Homo sapiens: one gene and its partners. The protein of the gene in region 3 interacts with the protein of the main gene of each other region in a biochemical or structural test. Each region holds a gene or a part of one and is shown on either strand. Other genes may lie near its edges.

What was found. The genes of interacting proteins can lie anywhere in the genome.
Region 1: the proteins of CDK8 (region 3) and SMARCA4 form a complex in vitro, tested with the Homo sapiens proteins (one study listed by BioGRID).
Region 2: the proteins of CDK8 (region 3) and NRIP1 form a complex in vitro, tested with the Homo sapiens proteins (one study listed by BioGRID).
Region 4: of the proteins of CDK8 (region 3) and ERCC3, one has a biochemical effect on the other in vitro, tested with the Homo sapiens proteins (one study listed by BioGRID).

Annotation. Positions count from the first base shown.
Region 1 is NC_000019.10:11,054,884-11,058,765, forward strand, and holds part of SMARCA4 (SWI/SNF-related matrix-associated actin-dependent regulator of chromatin subfamily A member 4), read left to right. Parts: intron 1-3,371; coding exon 3,372-3,480; intron 3,481-3,882. UniProt on the Homo sapiens protein: ATPase involved in transcriptional activation and repression of select genes by chromatin remodeling (alteration of DNA-nucleosome topology).
Region 2 is NC_000021.9:14,960,499-14,964,146, forward strand, and holds the end of NRIP1 (nuclear receptor-interacting protein 1), read right to left. Parts: 3' UTR 737-3,648; downstream 1-736. UniProt on the Homo sapiens protein: Modulates transcriptional activation by steroid receptors such as NR3C1, NR3C2 and ESR1. Also modulates transcriptional repression by nuclear hormone receptors.
Region 3 is NC_000013.11:26,393,468-26,397,349, forward strand, and holds part of CDK8 (cyclin-dependent kinase 8), read left to right. Parts: coding exon 1-43; intron 44-2,817; coding exon 2,818-2,887; intron 2,888-3,685; coding exon 3,686-3,758; intron 3,759-3,882.
Region 4 is NC_000002.12:127,259,732-127,263,290, forward strand, and holds part of ERCC3 (general transcription and DNA repair factor IIH helicase/translocase subunit XPB), read right to left. Parts: intron 1,616-3,559; coding exon 1,497-1,615; intron 1-1,496. UniProt on the Homo sapiens protein: ATP-dependent 3'-5' DNA helicase/translocase. Binds dsDNA rather than ssDNA, unzipping it in a translocase rather than classical helicase activity. Component of the general transcription and DNA repair factor IIH (TFIIH) core complex.

The sequences.
Region 1 (3,882 bases), on a different chromosome or scaffold from region 3:
GTAGGCCTTGACACGAGCATGGGAGCGGAGCTAGGGGCACTGACATCAAAGGTGGTGGCGCCTATCCAGAGGACTCCGGGTTTCATTCCAAGTGCGGGGAGGCTGCAGCATGTCCCTCTTTAATATAGAGGTGAGGGAGGCTCTCAGCACCCTGCCTGTTGCAGGGAAGCCTGAGGACAGGACCTCCAGGGAACTCTGCACCAGAGCGGAATCCTCAGACCGGCAACTGGGTGGTCTTGATTCATCCAGAACGTAATTCTCCTAGAGGTCTGGGAAGGGGTGCTCTTGTACCTTGGTTTTGTGTTTTGTTTTTGTTTGTTTTTTGAGACAGAGTCTCACTCTGTCGCCCAGGCTAGAATGCAGTGGTGCGATCTCGGCTCACTGCAACCTCTGCCACCCAGGTTCAGGTGATTCTCCTGCCTCAGCCTCCCGAGTAGCTGGGATTGCAGGTGCCTGTCACCACGCCTGGCTCATTTTTGTATTTTTAGTAGAGACGGGGTATCACTATCTTGGCCAGGCTGGTCTTGAACTCCGGACTTCGTGATCCACCCACCTCAGCCTCCCAAAGTTCTGGGGTTACAGGCGTGAGCCACTGCGCCCAGCCGCACCTTGTTTTTTTTTTGCTGCCTGTAGCTGTTTCTCATTAGCCTGATGGAGGTGGCTGTTGGGGTGGTGGGGTGCTTATTATAAAGCCTTCTGCTGTCACAGCCCTGGGGTCTCACTTCCTGGGCTCTCTGCATAGGGAGCCGCCCTCCAGGGCAAGGGCCACAGTGTGCAGTAAGCCCCCCATGGCCACAGGGCAGGGCGTTTCAAGCCAAGAGTCTGCACTGTTTGCTGGCCACTAAGGGCATTGAATGGATCACAAAACTGGCTTTTTTTTCCCCCAGTCAAATAGAAATGGGGTTTTGCCATGTTGTCCAGGCTGGTCTCAAACTCCTGGGCTCAAGCAATCCTCCCACGTTGGCCTCCCAAAGTGCTGGGATTACAGGCACGAGCCACCATATCTTTAAAAATGTAATAGAATGGAAAATGGCAAAGCGCGCTGCTTTTCATAGAAGAGACTATCGCATTGGGGTTCTTCTGTTGCCCCTGCCTGTGCTGCACGTCCTGCTTCACAGTGTAAAGCGCAACTCTTGCTGTGCCTTATTGTAACAGGTATAGGGTGGATGCTGCCATCATGAAGAGAGAGGAGAGCTCTTTGCTTATAAAATTCCGTAGAGTGGAGAACAGGATGTGCCGGCTTAGGAGAGGGAAGAGGTACAGGCCCGCTCTGCCCGAGCTGCAGATGGGACACACATTTCCCGACTCAGAGGGGAGTCGTGTCTTTCTCCAGGGTCACCGAGCAGCAAGCGCATCCACTGTGTGTTCTTATTTTCTGAGCCTGTGGACTGGGTTTACCAACAGTTGCCTGTGGCAGAGCCGGCCACCAGCCCGCTCATAGGAAAAAGGAAGCCTGTGCCTCCAGGGAGGGCCCACGATGGGAATGCAGTCTGAGAAGGGTATGTGCTCCCATGCTGGACCGGCTGGTCCCACACCCAGGACCAAAAACACCTCCTGGCAGGAGATGGGGAGATGTACTTCATGAACACACGTTGGGGAAGGACACTCCTGGAAGGCAGAGGCTCAAGGCGGGCTGTGTCCAGGCCAGGAGATTCACTCCCACCTCAATTTCCTCCTCAGCACGGCTGGCCTGGCACTGGTGCCTGCTTCAGAGTTTAGTGTGTGTAAAGTGTGGCTGGCCCAGCAAGCAGGGGATGATGGCGGTTGTCAAGGCCAGGGGAGGTGCAGGGACAGGATTCTGGCTCCCGTGTGTAACGTCTGCATCTCAGGAGGCTCTCATGTTAGAAGCTGGGTCAGGGGCTTCGTGATGCACACAAACACCAAACAAGCAGGAGGCCTTCCGGGATCCTGCTCACGAGCAGCTTCCTGGAGGCAAGCCTGGCCCGTCTGCCCCTTGGTGACATCAGGACCCCAGCAACAGAACCAGGGAAGCCACCATGTTGTCGCTGCCATTTTCCAGCGTGGTAAACAGAAGCAAGACAAGGCGCACTCAGGACACCCAAACAGACGGCGGGGCCAGCCAGTGGCATGGGCGGGCTGCCCTGCCCTCTGGAATTTTCTGGGAAAGAACATAAGGAAAGAAGCGGTGCTGATGAGGCAGCTGGAGTTATCAGGACCCAAGCTCAGCTCCTCCTTCCCATCAGGCCCCGTTGGCCACTTTTAGGCTTCGTCCGCCTGGTGGCTCCCTGCTTGGGGCCGTTCCCTGGCTAGGCCCTTCCTCTGGGCCAAAGCAGAGAGGAGAGCGCGTTTGCCATGCGTTCTCATTTTCCCAGCCTGCGGGCTGGGTTCTGTCAGAGCAAGGTCAGCTCTCAGAGCTTCTGTCCCCACCCACCCTGTCCTGCTGAGCCAGGCTCAGGTATGGGTAAGAGCTGGGAGCGCTGTGCACGAGGCCTGGCAGCATCTCATCACTGCCGCTGTACCGAGTGCACAAGGGCGCTTCCTGTGGTGTTCAGGGGGTTAGATCAGTCCCCAGTGAGGACAGAGCAGAGATCCAGATGCATCCCAGGCCGGCTGCAGTGGCTTCTGCCTCTAATCCCAGCACTTCGGGAGGCCAAGGCAGGCAGATCACGAGGTCAAGAGATCGAGACCATCCTGACCAACATGGTGAAACCCTGTCTCTACTAAAAATACAAAAATTAGCCGGGTGTGGTGGCTGGCATCTGTAATCCCAGCTACTCGGGAGGCTGAGGCAGGAGAATTGCTTGAGCCCAGGAGGCAGAGGTTGCAGTGAGCCGAGATCATTCCATTGCGCTCCAGTCTGGCGACAGAACAAGACTCTGTCTCAAAAAAAACAAAAAACAAAAAAATGTATCACAGGCCTGTTTGTGTGGTTGTCTCTGGGAAATGTTCCAGAAGCTACAAGAAAGCACATGTGCAGGCCAGGCATGGTGGCTCACACCTGTAATCCCAGCACTTTGGGATGCTGAGGCGGGCTGATCACCTGAGGTCGGGAGTTTGAGACCAGTCTGACCAACATGGAGAAACCCTGTCTCTACTAAAAATACAAAATTAGCCTGGCATGGTGGTGCACGACTGTAAAAAATCCCAGTGACTCCAAAGGCTGAGGCAGGAGAATCTCCTGAACCTGGGAGGTGGAGGTTGCAGTGAGCCGAGATCGCACCATTGCACTCCAGCCTGGGCAGCAAGAGCGAAACTCCGTCTCAAAAAAAAAAAAAGCGCATGTGCAAGAAATAGCTCCTGAGCTGAGTTGGAATTTCTCATCCTTAAACAATGTGGGAACCTGCTGAGGTGGGGTGGGGGCTCCCGGGTGGGCGGACTCGGGGGTGATAGCCGCCGGTTCTGCCTTGCAGCAGCAGTGGACGTCAGCTCAGCGAGGTCTTCATCCAGCTGCCCTCGCGAAAGGAGCTGCCCGAGTACTACGAGCTCATCCGCAAGCCCGTGGACTTCAAGAAGATAAAGGTAACCCTGACGTTGTACCTGCGCCCCGCATGTGCCCGGAGGGGAGTCTGACCCAGGGGCACCCCCATCTGAGAGCTGTGGTGTGTGGGCAGAATGACCAGAAACCACCTAGGCGGTGCCTTGGGCTACCTGGTTAGGGACCTGGTCGTGGGCTTTTGGGGTTCCTTGTAAGGGTTGGGGGTGTCCTGAGGGATGTCAGTGGGCAGTCGGTGTTGGGTGTTCCTTCAAGGTCCCACTCACTTAGTGCTGGGCCTCAGTCATGCAGTTCCCATGCCTAGTGAGCCAGGTTACCGAGGCTGGCGCTTCGGCCACATCCTCATAGGCACGAGGAATCCTAGCCCGTGGGGTCTCCAGCACACAGCCAGGCCTGCGGGCAGGCGAGGCGGGGTCCTGAGGTAAGAC
Region 2 (3,648 bases), on a different chromosome or scaffold from region 3:
TTGAACATTTTTAGACATTTATAAACCTATTAAGAGAGAAGCTGCATGGATTACAATAGACCTATCTGGGTCCCAGGAAACAGAATTCCTCTTTGGGAAAATGTCTTTCTCATAAATTATCATTATTTGTAAAAATAAAAATTCCTAAGCTGTTAAGTTTACCTGGGTACAAAGTTTTTTTTTTTTTCTTGGAATCCACTGGTCTCTAATACTTATTGAGTATGTATGTTGCTTATCAATTACTCATTACCTATACACATACAGCATATATTTAAACATGTAAACACGTGTATATACATACACATTCATTTTTGGAAAATTATTAAACTCCTTTTTCTTTTATTTAAAATAAACCACACCCATTAAAAACTGGATAAAAGCCTTCTGATAAAGTCTTATCCTAAAATGAAGTGTGTATGTATATACATATAGTCAACATTAATTTTGAATACTGCACAAACTATTTTCTAGTTTAAAAATTTACAGTGATCAACTAGTTACACACTGAATCATGGGAGAAAGGCCATAGGCTGATTGTCACTTTGAGTTATGCCTTAATTACCCTGTTTCTAGTGCACTAACTTGCCAGCCACCTTCTTTTTTGTCCCCTTTATTTTTCTAAGAAGGGCAAAACATCCTTGAAGATCACTGTTATATTCATAGCAATGTGTTTTACGTTTATGGAAAACCTAAAAACCAGAGAAAGCCCACAAAATAACAGTCATTTCAAACCAGAGACAATGCATTTTTTCTCATTTATTCAAATTCACTGCAGGAAGTAAACACTAAAAGATTAAAAAACAAAACAAAAAAATTCACACTGCAGTATGTACAGTTTCATGACATCACATGAAGAAATTAAATTTCTAATAAAAATGGCAAATTATATTACTGAGCAGATCGCATCAAATTTGGTTGTGTAAACACCAGAATTCTTACTATGAATGGTAATGTGCCTATATTCCAGTATTGCTAATACTGGGATACTCTTGGAATAATGTTTGCAATGGGATTAAAAAATTCATGAAAGTAGTTGTGTGAATTCTTTATGTTTAAAAGTGGTTGACGATTAAAAAAATTCTTTAAGACCCTTCGAATCAAAGCACATTCTTTCACAAAGCTTAAACCACAGACGTCATGTCCAGAAATGGAATACTGTCATGTTAGGATGAACATCTGATCTGATTTGTTAAGACATTTTGCCAAATGCACAGATGCACAGGGTCCCCCATGCACTTTTCATGCAGCAGGTAATCACAACTTAAATAAAAGGTTTATTCTATACATTTGTCCAGACTTGCAACTGTATACATACATGCACAACTTTTAAACCTGTCTGATTATATTTACACTTATACATGGAATATACAGGAACCAAAGAGATTAAAAGGCTTTTCTGTTGCATTAGAACAATACAAAATATGTATTTTTCATTAAGGAAATCACTATTTACATCACCTTTAAAAACCGATTTTAACATCTTCATGTAACAAGTCAATATATATATATATACATATTATATATATATATATATATATATATATAAAATATATACTCTCACCAGTTTACTCTTCTGTAAGATGCAGCAGAGAATAAACAGGTAATGAATGCTACCTTACTGATGTCAATAAGCTGTAGTACCCTTTCACAAATGACTTTATTAGAAGAAATTGTCTAGATATCTAAAATAGTCCTTGAAAATGTGTATATGTGCATCCTTGTATCTACATATGCATAAACAAAGTGAATCTGTGGATGTATGCCCTTTCTCACTGTTCTTTAAAATCACCCTAAATTCAAATTGGGAACATTCTCTAGTAAATCAGAACAGCATTCTTCGTGGTCATGTTTATTTAAGTATTACATATTCTCATTCCTTTGTTAACAACAACGAAAACAACCAGCCAACCAAAAAAACAAAACAAAACCCACACACACACACACAAAAGTAGCAATGCTGGCCCTTGGTCTTTTCCCTGACCTAAATTTCACTCTCTTGTAAAAAGGTCATTTCCCCCTACCCAAGGGAGAATACCAACATATTTTTTCTGACATACCTCTAAGGCTCCAAACCTTCCACAACGATCAAGAAAAATGACTTGTTTAAAAGCTTATTTATATAGTGTTGACAATAAGATTGTCATAGTATGGACATGGAATAGAATATATTCAACTGGCCAGTGGAATTTTATGTCAGAATAAGCCTATGCCTTCACTTCTCCATGATGTTGCATAATACCCACTCCTATTACTGTATAATATTTCCAGTAGCTATTTACAAATCATTCTGAGGAAAAATAACCATTTAGGGTTTTAGATCATATTAGGAAATCACACCTATTTTTAATATAAAAATCTTAGAAACCACTTCAAGTAGAACAATTTTAAATCAATATCCTAACTAGTAGTGATTATAGAATAATTTTTGATAGGTCATTTGCTAACCTGGTTCACAATTAAGAACAAAATATCTGGTGAATGAATTGTGGATTGTACAAACTGAACATAAAAACAGACCTGTTTCGCAACTGAAACCCCATGTGGCTTCACTAATATATTAATTTCTTCTAAGACAGTATCAACATGTACTTTTCATCACTACTTTAAAGTAAAAGATCCAATGGAGTGATTGTGTACAATTCTGTCACGTATATGTGCCCTTTGTACTTTTTATTTAGTCAATCTGAGTTTAGTGCCCTTCTTGGGTTTAAACTAAATGTTGTAAGCTTTGTTGGCATTGTTCTTAGGACAATGGTTTTAATAAAGGTTAAGGATGCATTCAGGAGAAGTTTCCAAACCATCCTGGAATCACCTGAGTTTGGTAAGTGGCCCTGTTTTTCCATCCCTAAGGCTAACTAAGTAGATGTTACTCATTAGAACACACAAATAATCACAGATTTTCCTGAGATGTTGAGCCAGATATGAAAGTTATCCCCTCCACCCAATTTTTGTCATAAAAAGTGTTCTGAACCCGATTTCCAAAGACATAACGGTAATATATGAACTACAATATTGCAAATTTTGAGCTGATGTGTGACTGTATTGGGGAAAATAGAGGCATCACATAGTTTTTTGTTTTTGTTTTACAGTCTCATGTTCTGAGGAAAGTCATAAGTCATGGTTCTCAAACACAAGAAACACCTAGAGAGCATGTTAAGATGCAGATGGAAGATTCCAGGTCCACTTAGCAGAGATTCTTGTTCTGTAGATCTGAGATGCTGCCTATGAATCTGCATTTTAAAACAAGTGCTCCAGATGGTTCTAATGCAAGTGGTCTGAGTTCAGGTTTAAGGAATCCTGGTCATAACACTCGCAGGTACCACAGGAATGGTGAGAATTAACTTTTACAAGAGATGGTGAAAACTGTCCAAAGAAAAGCCATTTTGCTTCTGTTAAAAACAATTTCTTAAATATTCAACTTTTCAGGAAACCACCTAAAGATAAATGTTAACTTTTCTAATTCTGTAAAAGGAGGAGTATTAATTTAGTAAAGTAGTTAAAATACAAAAAATGGAAATCTGCCTTTTTTTTAAAGGATCTATCAAACTTCCCTCAATTGTAATCAATTTTTACTAAGTAGCACAAGGTTTAAAGAAATATATATTGAAAAGGATCAGGGTGGGACAGACACATTGGGAACCACAAAAC
Region 3 (3,882 bases):
GACCAGCTGGACAGAATATTCAATGTAATGGGATTTCCTGCAGGTACACATTATTCGTTTTTGTTTTTGTTTTTAAATCACTGTTGTTTGAACTTAGATGTCTTCGTTGGAGAGGTATATATTTTTAGCTGATGGAAGCTACTTTTACTTGAGTCTTTGTTTTTTGACTTGCATTTATCAAAGATCCGTAGAAACAGCAAAATTTGTAGAGTTTACATATTGGCATGGAAATATTTATGGGTTTCCTGAATTTCAGGACTGTATTTTTGTTTCATCTTGTTTTACTTTTTTGTTTTGTTATTTGGTATTTGAAATGATAAAATATGTTCAATATCTGTATTAAAAAGGTACCTTTAGCTCTTACCAGTAGAAACTATAAATGAATTCAGTAGTAGGAATTTTTTTCTGGCAGCACATATAATACTGCCACTATTTGGCATTCAAATATAAATTTTGAACCTTATTTCTATTTAGGGCACTATACAGAATCACATTATATTGAATAATAGCATTTAAGTCTTCTCTTAGAACAGTCACAATGTGGGTGAGAGTCATAGTACCCTATGGTGAGTTAGCCTGCTGTTTTGCAACAGAGAGATGGTTTACATGTATCCTATCCCTGGTATTAGATCTCTCCAACTGTATCTCAATCCCTAGTTATATTACAGAACGGTAATCACCAAAAACTGCTCAGAGGTCCAGAATAATGAGAATTTGTTTAAAACACCTAAATTTTGGCTAGTCAAGTACTTAGTAGAAAGTGTTTCTTATTAGGAATATTTCTCAGGTCACTATAAACTCAAGACTAATAGAGATAATACCTGGGACTTTTAATTCTACATTCCCTTGTAAGGGTGTTAATTATCAGTAAATGCAGAATAACTACACAGATACTGCCTTTCTCCAAAATTGGTCACCAGTGTGGAGAAGACTTCTGTTGTGATGGGAATTTTATTTATTCAGTAAATATTTATTGAGTACCTGCCATGTGCCAGGCACTGTCTTAAGTAAAAAGTTATTGATGATGTAACAGACATGATTTTTGCCCCCTTGGAGTTTGCATTGTACTGCTATATGTAGAATGTTTAAAAAGTAGGTATGGTTTTGAGTAGAGACAGAAGAATTCTGTTTTCTTCCTGCTTCTGAATGTGTCCACCATTTCTGAGCCCACGGGAAAGGCATAGCTTCTGTGAGGGAGTAGATGTGGTGAAGATGTCTATCAGTGACTCTTAATATGTGGTTCAGAGGTTAGGGTGGTTTATAAGGAAGCTTGGAAAGCAGGCAGCAGAGGTTAGATTTGATAGCTAAAGAATGAGAATCCATCAGTTCTTGAGTACTAGAGACATGCTTTATGTTGCATTTTAGAAAGATTTAGTAAGATGGTGGTAGGTAAAAATCTGTTAAAAAGAGCTAACTGAAATCAGAAACCAGCTGTAGCAGTGCTGCAGACAGAAAGTAGAGTGAAGATAAGGATGGAGAAAAAAGGGCAGATGGAAATGTTTTATAGGAAGTGTATAAGCAAGGGAAAACTAAAGATTATCTTAAAATTTCTAGCATGAGAAATTGATAAAACACAGAAATTGGAGCAAGGAAAATAGTTAAGGAGAAAATTCCATTTAGGAGTGTAGTGTATGTTTAGTTTACAATATGTGATGTCTTTGGAGGATAGTTACCAAATATTTTTACAAGTAAGTTCAAAGAAAAGCAAGCCTCTAAAGGCCATTTAAAAGCTAAAGGTTTTGCGAGGCCGCGGTGGGCGGATCACCTGAGGTTGGGAGTTTGAGACCAGCCTGAACAACATGGAGAAACCCCGTCTCTACCAAAAATACAAAATTAGCTGGGCATGGTGGCTACATGCCTGTAATGTATTACAGGCATGGGATTACATGCCTGTAATCCCAGCTACTCTGGAGGCTGAGGCAGGGGAATCACTTGAACCTGGGAGGCAGAGGTTGGGGTGAGCCGAGATCGCACCATTGCACTCCGGCCTGGGCTGTTAACAAGAGCGAAACTCCGTCTCAAAAAAAAAAAAAAAAGAGCTAAAGGTGCTGTTAAGCTGCCTGTGACAGTCCTTTGCACCTAGTAGACTCTCAGGAAAACCCATTGGCAGATATTGGAGAGAACACATTATGTAGCATGTATTGTTTGAGCAACTTGGATGCCAGCAAAAGTAGCTGAAACGTTTTGTACTTAACGTATTTAGGAGCTGGGGTTGTTTTGGGTAATGTTAACCAGACTAGCCAAGGTACCAGCCCACTTATTAATATACTAATTATATCCTACCCTATTGTGCAAATAGTTATTACCCCTTCTTCCATTGATTGCTTATGTAAAGAAATATATTTAACAAGGTGAAAGGAGGGCTGTATCATAAAAAGAAGTATAGTTTAAAGCCACTGAGGGGAAGATCTTAGATTTCTCATTGAAGAAATTGATTGCTGACTTAACCAAGAAATTTGGTAGAAAAGGGGAAATAAGCAGTTTTACTAATAGAAAGAGGACATTTAATAAGATAAATAGAAATATGTATAACTTATTCTTCTCTAGTGACAGAAATTGAGGCAGCTTATAGTAAAACATACAGAAAGTTTGCAGTTTAAAATTTAAAATATAAACAGATATATAAAGTTATATAAGGGATAAGGAATTATGTTTACACTTCAAGATATTTACTGTTGCTGAACATTTATTTGAAGACAGCTTTTTTGTGTGGAGGTTGAACGGATAGGAAATGTAATGAACGTGGTAATAACCTTTTTAAAAATTCTCAAGAATAGGAACTTAGGCAACATAAAAATTTATCAATGTATTTCACAGATAAAGATTGGGAAGATATAAAAAAGATGCCTGAACATTCAACATTAATGAAAGATTTCAGAAGAAATACGTAAGTTGGAAAAAAAGAGACTCCTTGTTGATTTTTGCTTTACCAGAATACTCAGTGTAAGACTGAATATTCAACATAATAAAATACTCAATATAAGATTACTCTAATAAATAATTTTACTTATTTACTCTAATAAATATTTTTCATGATGACAGTCTTTATTTCTTAAGATGCTTAAATGATTATATACAAAAGTGACTAATATTAGCAGCTGATTTGGATATAAAACAAATTCATGTCTTTCCATATTGACTACTTTTTGGAAGCTAGACATTAGTGAGAAGTATCACAGCTGAATAAATAAGAATCTAAATAAATAAACTTTGGTAATAGCCACTTGCTCACCAATCTAGGTTACAGTAATTTTAAGCAGGTTTTAACAGAGAAGAATGGATATTTCACCTGTTTACAATGCAAAGCCAGGGATTGGGAGAGTTTAGTTTGTATACCTATGACAAAAGTATTTTACACTTATTGGTAAGGCTGAATTAAACTTTTGACCCAGATGTTATTTAAAATAATTGTTAAAATATAATTCATGTGAAAAAAAAAGCTGTTTAGTGTCTGTTATTCATGAAATTGTCTTACATTTAATCATCGGTATCCTTTCAAAAGTGACCATTGTGGATATTGAATGAAATAGAAAACTGATTTAATTCTACTCATTTTATGCTCATAGTGTTTTCAATATATATTTTATATCGGTTATGATCAAAATAATTCTCATCAGAAGGACTTTAGCCAATGTACAATTAACCTCAAGTCTAATATAGCTATTTCATAGTATTTCTCTTTCAGGTATACCAACTGCAGCCTTATCAAGTATATGGAAAAACATAAAGTTAAACCAGATAGTAAAGCATTCCACTTGGTAAGCATTGGTTAACAGTATTAATGAAATGCATTTTTTCCTTAATTGACTAGCCCAACTGAGGCTTTTTTGGATCAATTTATGTGGTTACTTAGCTAGCACTCAGAGTGCTTTCATGGTAAAT
Region 4 (3,559 bases), on a different chromosome or scaffold from region 3:
GGAAGAATCTTAGTGATTTTAAAAGGCTCCTTCGGGTAGCCTTCACATCTTGGAGCAGACAAAGGAAGGGACAAGTGACTGGAAGGCACAGGCTGTGGCCCTTTGTGAAGGTCCCTGGCATCTGCTGTGCTCCGCAACTGGGGCTTCCAGCAGGAATGAGCACGTGAAAATGAAAATGATAGGATATCAGGAAGATTATTTATAGAGCTTCTCTGAGAGAGTAAGAACAGCATGGTGGAGACTGGGTTTTCATTTCTATGGGGATAACTTACTACAAGGGCTCCCTATCCCTGCAGAAAACTTGGGTTGATTCTGTAAAGGGAATTCTCCTTCCCTCCAATTCTCATAATGTTCATTAAATGAAAATTCCTAGAAGTAAGGATCTGAGTCCTTCTGGGCCAGGGATCCAGAGTACAGACGATGTGCACATCTGCCCAGGCCCAGCCACTCCACGTCATGACTCTGGGAACTCCAACCACTGCTCCTCAACAGGCAGCACCGAAGACACAGCTCCAACCAACACAAACTACTACGGCATGGCATTGTGCCTTTTTGTCGAGGTCACCTTTCAAAGAATTGCTCTTTCTGACCTGGTGCTCCTCTTACCCTCACAGCTCGGCAGGAATCAGGAGGTAGGAATGCTATTACCAACAGGGATTTTCATGGATGGATAAAAAGGTCATGATGCAAATCCTCCAAAAAACTGGGCTCAAAACCCAAGCATCTTGTCCTCTAGGCCAGCATGAGAGGTCTGAAGTGTCACTGCCTCTAGCTAAAAGAGGGAAGGTCAGACAACCCTGTCCTCCTAAGGCCAATAATGGGAACTCTCACCAATGCATAAAGAGACACATTAAAAACGTATCTCAAAAGGCAGCCTGGATTGCAGTCTTTTGCAATCAAGAACCTGGGAGTCTAATGTTCTAGGGATGTCCTTTTAGTGGACCATAGGGGGAATTTAATTCCCCTACTTCTAGAACCCTCCATCTATCCCCAAAATATAAAGCCCTCTGGACACCAAATACTGACATAAACGTAATATTTGTGTAACAGGAAAGAAAGCAAATGCCTCAGCCAGTGAAAGTTAGCCAAAGCTTTAGAATTTCCCAATTATTAAAATACCTGATTTGTAGTACAGGATAGCTCTGATGTCTGGGAGGCAAACTGAGGCAAACTAAGGCCTGGAGCTTACCAGCTGATGAAAGGAAGAGCTCTCCTAGCTACCTAGAGAGGCATCCCTGAGAAAGCAGCCCTGCGGGGCTCAGATTCACACAGTGCTGGTCATAGTGCCATGGCACCTCAGTCCTGCCAGGACGGCACACTTTCCACCAACAGCTGCCCTCAGAGATTCATGCAGAGATAAAGGGAGTTTGAGGCAAGGCCTCTAATCTCCTAATGCTTGGTGCCTGCCTGCTGACAGTGGCCCTCGCTTCTCCTGGAGGCCAGGGTATCAAGAAGGCCTTGGTCCTAGTCTAACCAGAAGCCAAATGGATATGTACCTTGAAGCTATAACCTTGATCTACCAAGAATCTCTGCCGCTTGGTTGAGTAAGCCATTTCCTGTGTGTCCTGGGATACCAGTGAGTAGAAAAAGGCATTGTACTCTTCTGCAACCATCCCTGCAGGAAAAAATGAGAAACGGCAATAAAGAAGACAACATTAGCCATTAGAATGCCAAGAGCTAAGGGTCCCAGGCTCAAAAGCAAGCACTGGAGTGGAAAAGCCCTGCACTCGGGGTTACCACCTGAACTTGGCATGGGATTGCATCAAAATTTGGAAGTCTTTTGTGCTTCCAAGGACACCATCAAGTGAAAAAACAATCCTCAGAATAAAAAAATGTGGAAAGCATATATCTGATAAGGGATTTGTATCTAGGTTATACAAAGAACTGTTGAAACTCAACAACAAGACAAATTAATTATAAATGAGAGAAGAATATGAACAGATTACTTCTCCAAAAACAATATAAAAATAGCCAGTAAGCACATGAAATGATGCTCCACACCATTAATCACCAGGGAAATGCAACTCAAAAGCACAATGAGATTATCACCTCACGCCCCTCTCCGAGGATGGCTACAATCAAAAAAGCAGATAACTGCCACTGTTGTCAAGGATGTGGAAAAACTAGAACCCGCATGCATTGCTGTTGAGAATGTAAATGATGCGGCTGCTTTGGAAAACAGTCTGGCAGTTCATCAAAATGTTAAACACACTGTTATAACCACATGACCTGGCAATTCCACTTCCAGGCATAAATCCAAGAGAAATGAAACTATATCCACACAAAAATTTGTACATGAATTTCATAGCAGAATTCTTCTAAGAGCCAAAAAGTGGAAACAGCCCAAATGTCCATCAACAGATGTGTGGATAAATAAAATGTGGTATGTCCATGGAATCGAATATTATTTAGCAATAAAAAAGAATGAAGTACTGACAGATGCTACAATATAGATAATCTTTTTGAAAACATTATGCTGCCGGGTGTGGTGACCCAGTCCTGTAATCCCAGCCCTTTGGGAGGCTGAGGTGGGCGTGGATCACTCAAGGTCAGGAGTTTGAGACCAGCCTGGCCAACATGGTGAAACTCCATCTCTACTAAAAATAGAAAAATTAGCCAGGCGTGGTGGCTCATGCCTGTAATTCCAGCTACGCGGGAGGCTGAGGCAGGAGAATCCCTTGAACCTGCGAGGCAGTGGTTGCAGTGAGCCAAGATCGCCCCACTGTACTCCAGCCTGGGCGATAGAGCGAGATTCCATCTCCAAAAAACAAACAAACAAAACATTATGCTAAGTGAAAAGAAACCAGTCACAGAAGGCCCCAAGTGGTCTGACTGCATTTACATGAAATGTCCAGAAAAGGCCTACAGACATCAAAGTAGATTAGGGGCTGCCTAGAGCTGGGGGTTGGGAACAAGAGGAAATTAGGAGTGGCTGTGCATGGATGAGGGTTTCTTTTGGGAGCTGATGAGAATATTCTAAACATGAATTGTGTTGATAGTTGCACAACTTTGTGAATATTGTATTTCCTAGGTTTTCTTCGAGGATCCTTATAGTTTGAGGTCTTACATTTACATCTTTAATCCATTATGAGTTGATTTTTGTATGTGGTGATAGGCAGGGGTCTGGTTTCATCCTTCTGCATACAGTTAGCCAGTTTCCCCAGCACCATTTATTGAATAGGGAGTACTTTCCCCACTGCATATTTTTGCCAATTTTGTTGAACATCAGTTGGCTGCAGGTACATGGCATTATTTCTGAGCTCTCTATTCTGCTCCATTGGTCTATGTGCCTGTTCTGTACCAGTACCATGCTGTTTTGGTTACTGTAAGCCCTGTAGCATAGTTTGAAGTTGGATACTGTGAGGCCTTTGGCTTTGTTCCTTTTGCTTAGGATTGCTTTGGCTATTCAGGTGCTTTTGTGGTTCCAGATGAATTTTATAAGTTTTTTTTCTAATTCTGTGAAAAATGATGTTGGCAATTTGATAGAATAGTGTTGAATCTGTAGATTGTTTTGGGCAGTTTGGCAATTTTAATGATATTGCTTCTTCCAATCCTCAAG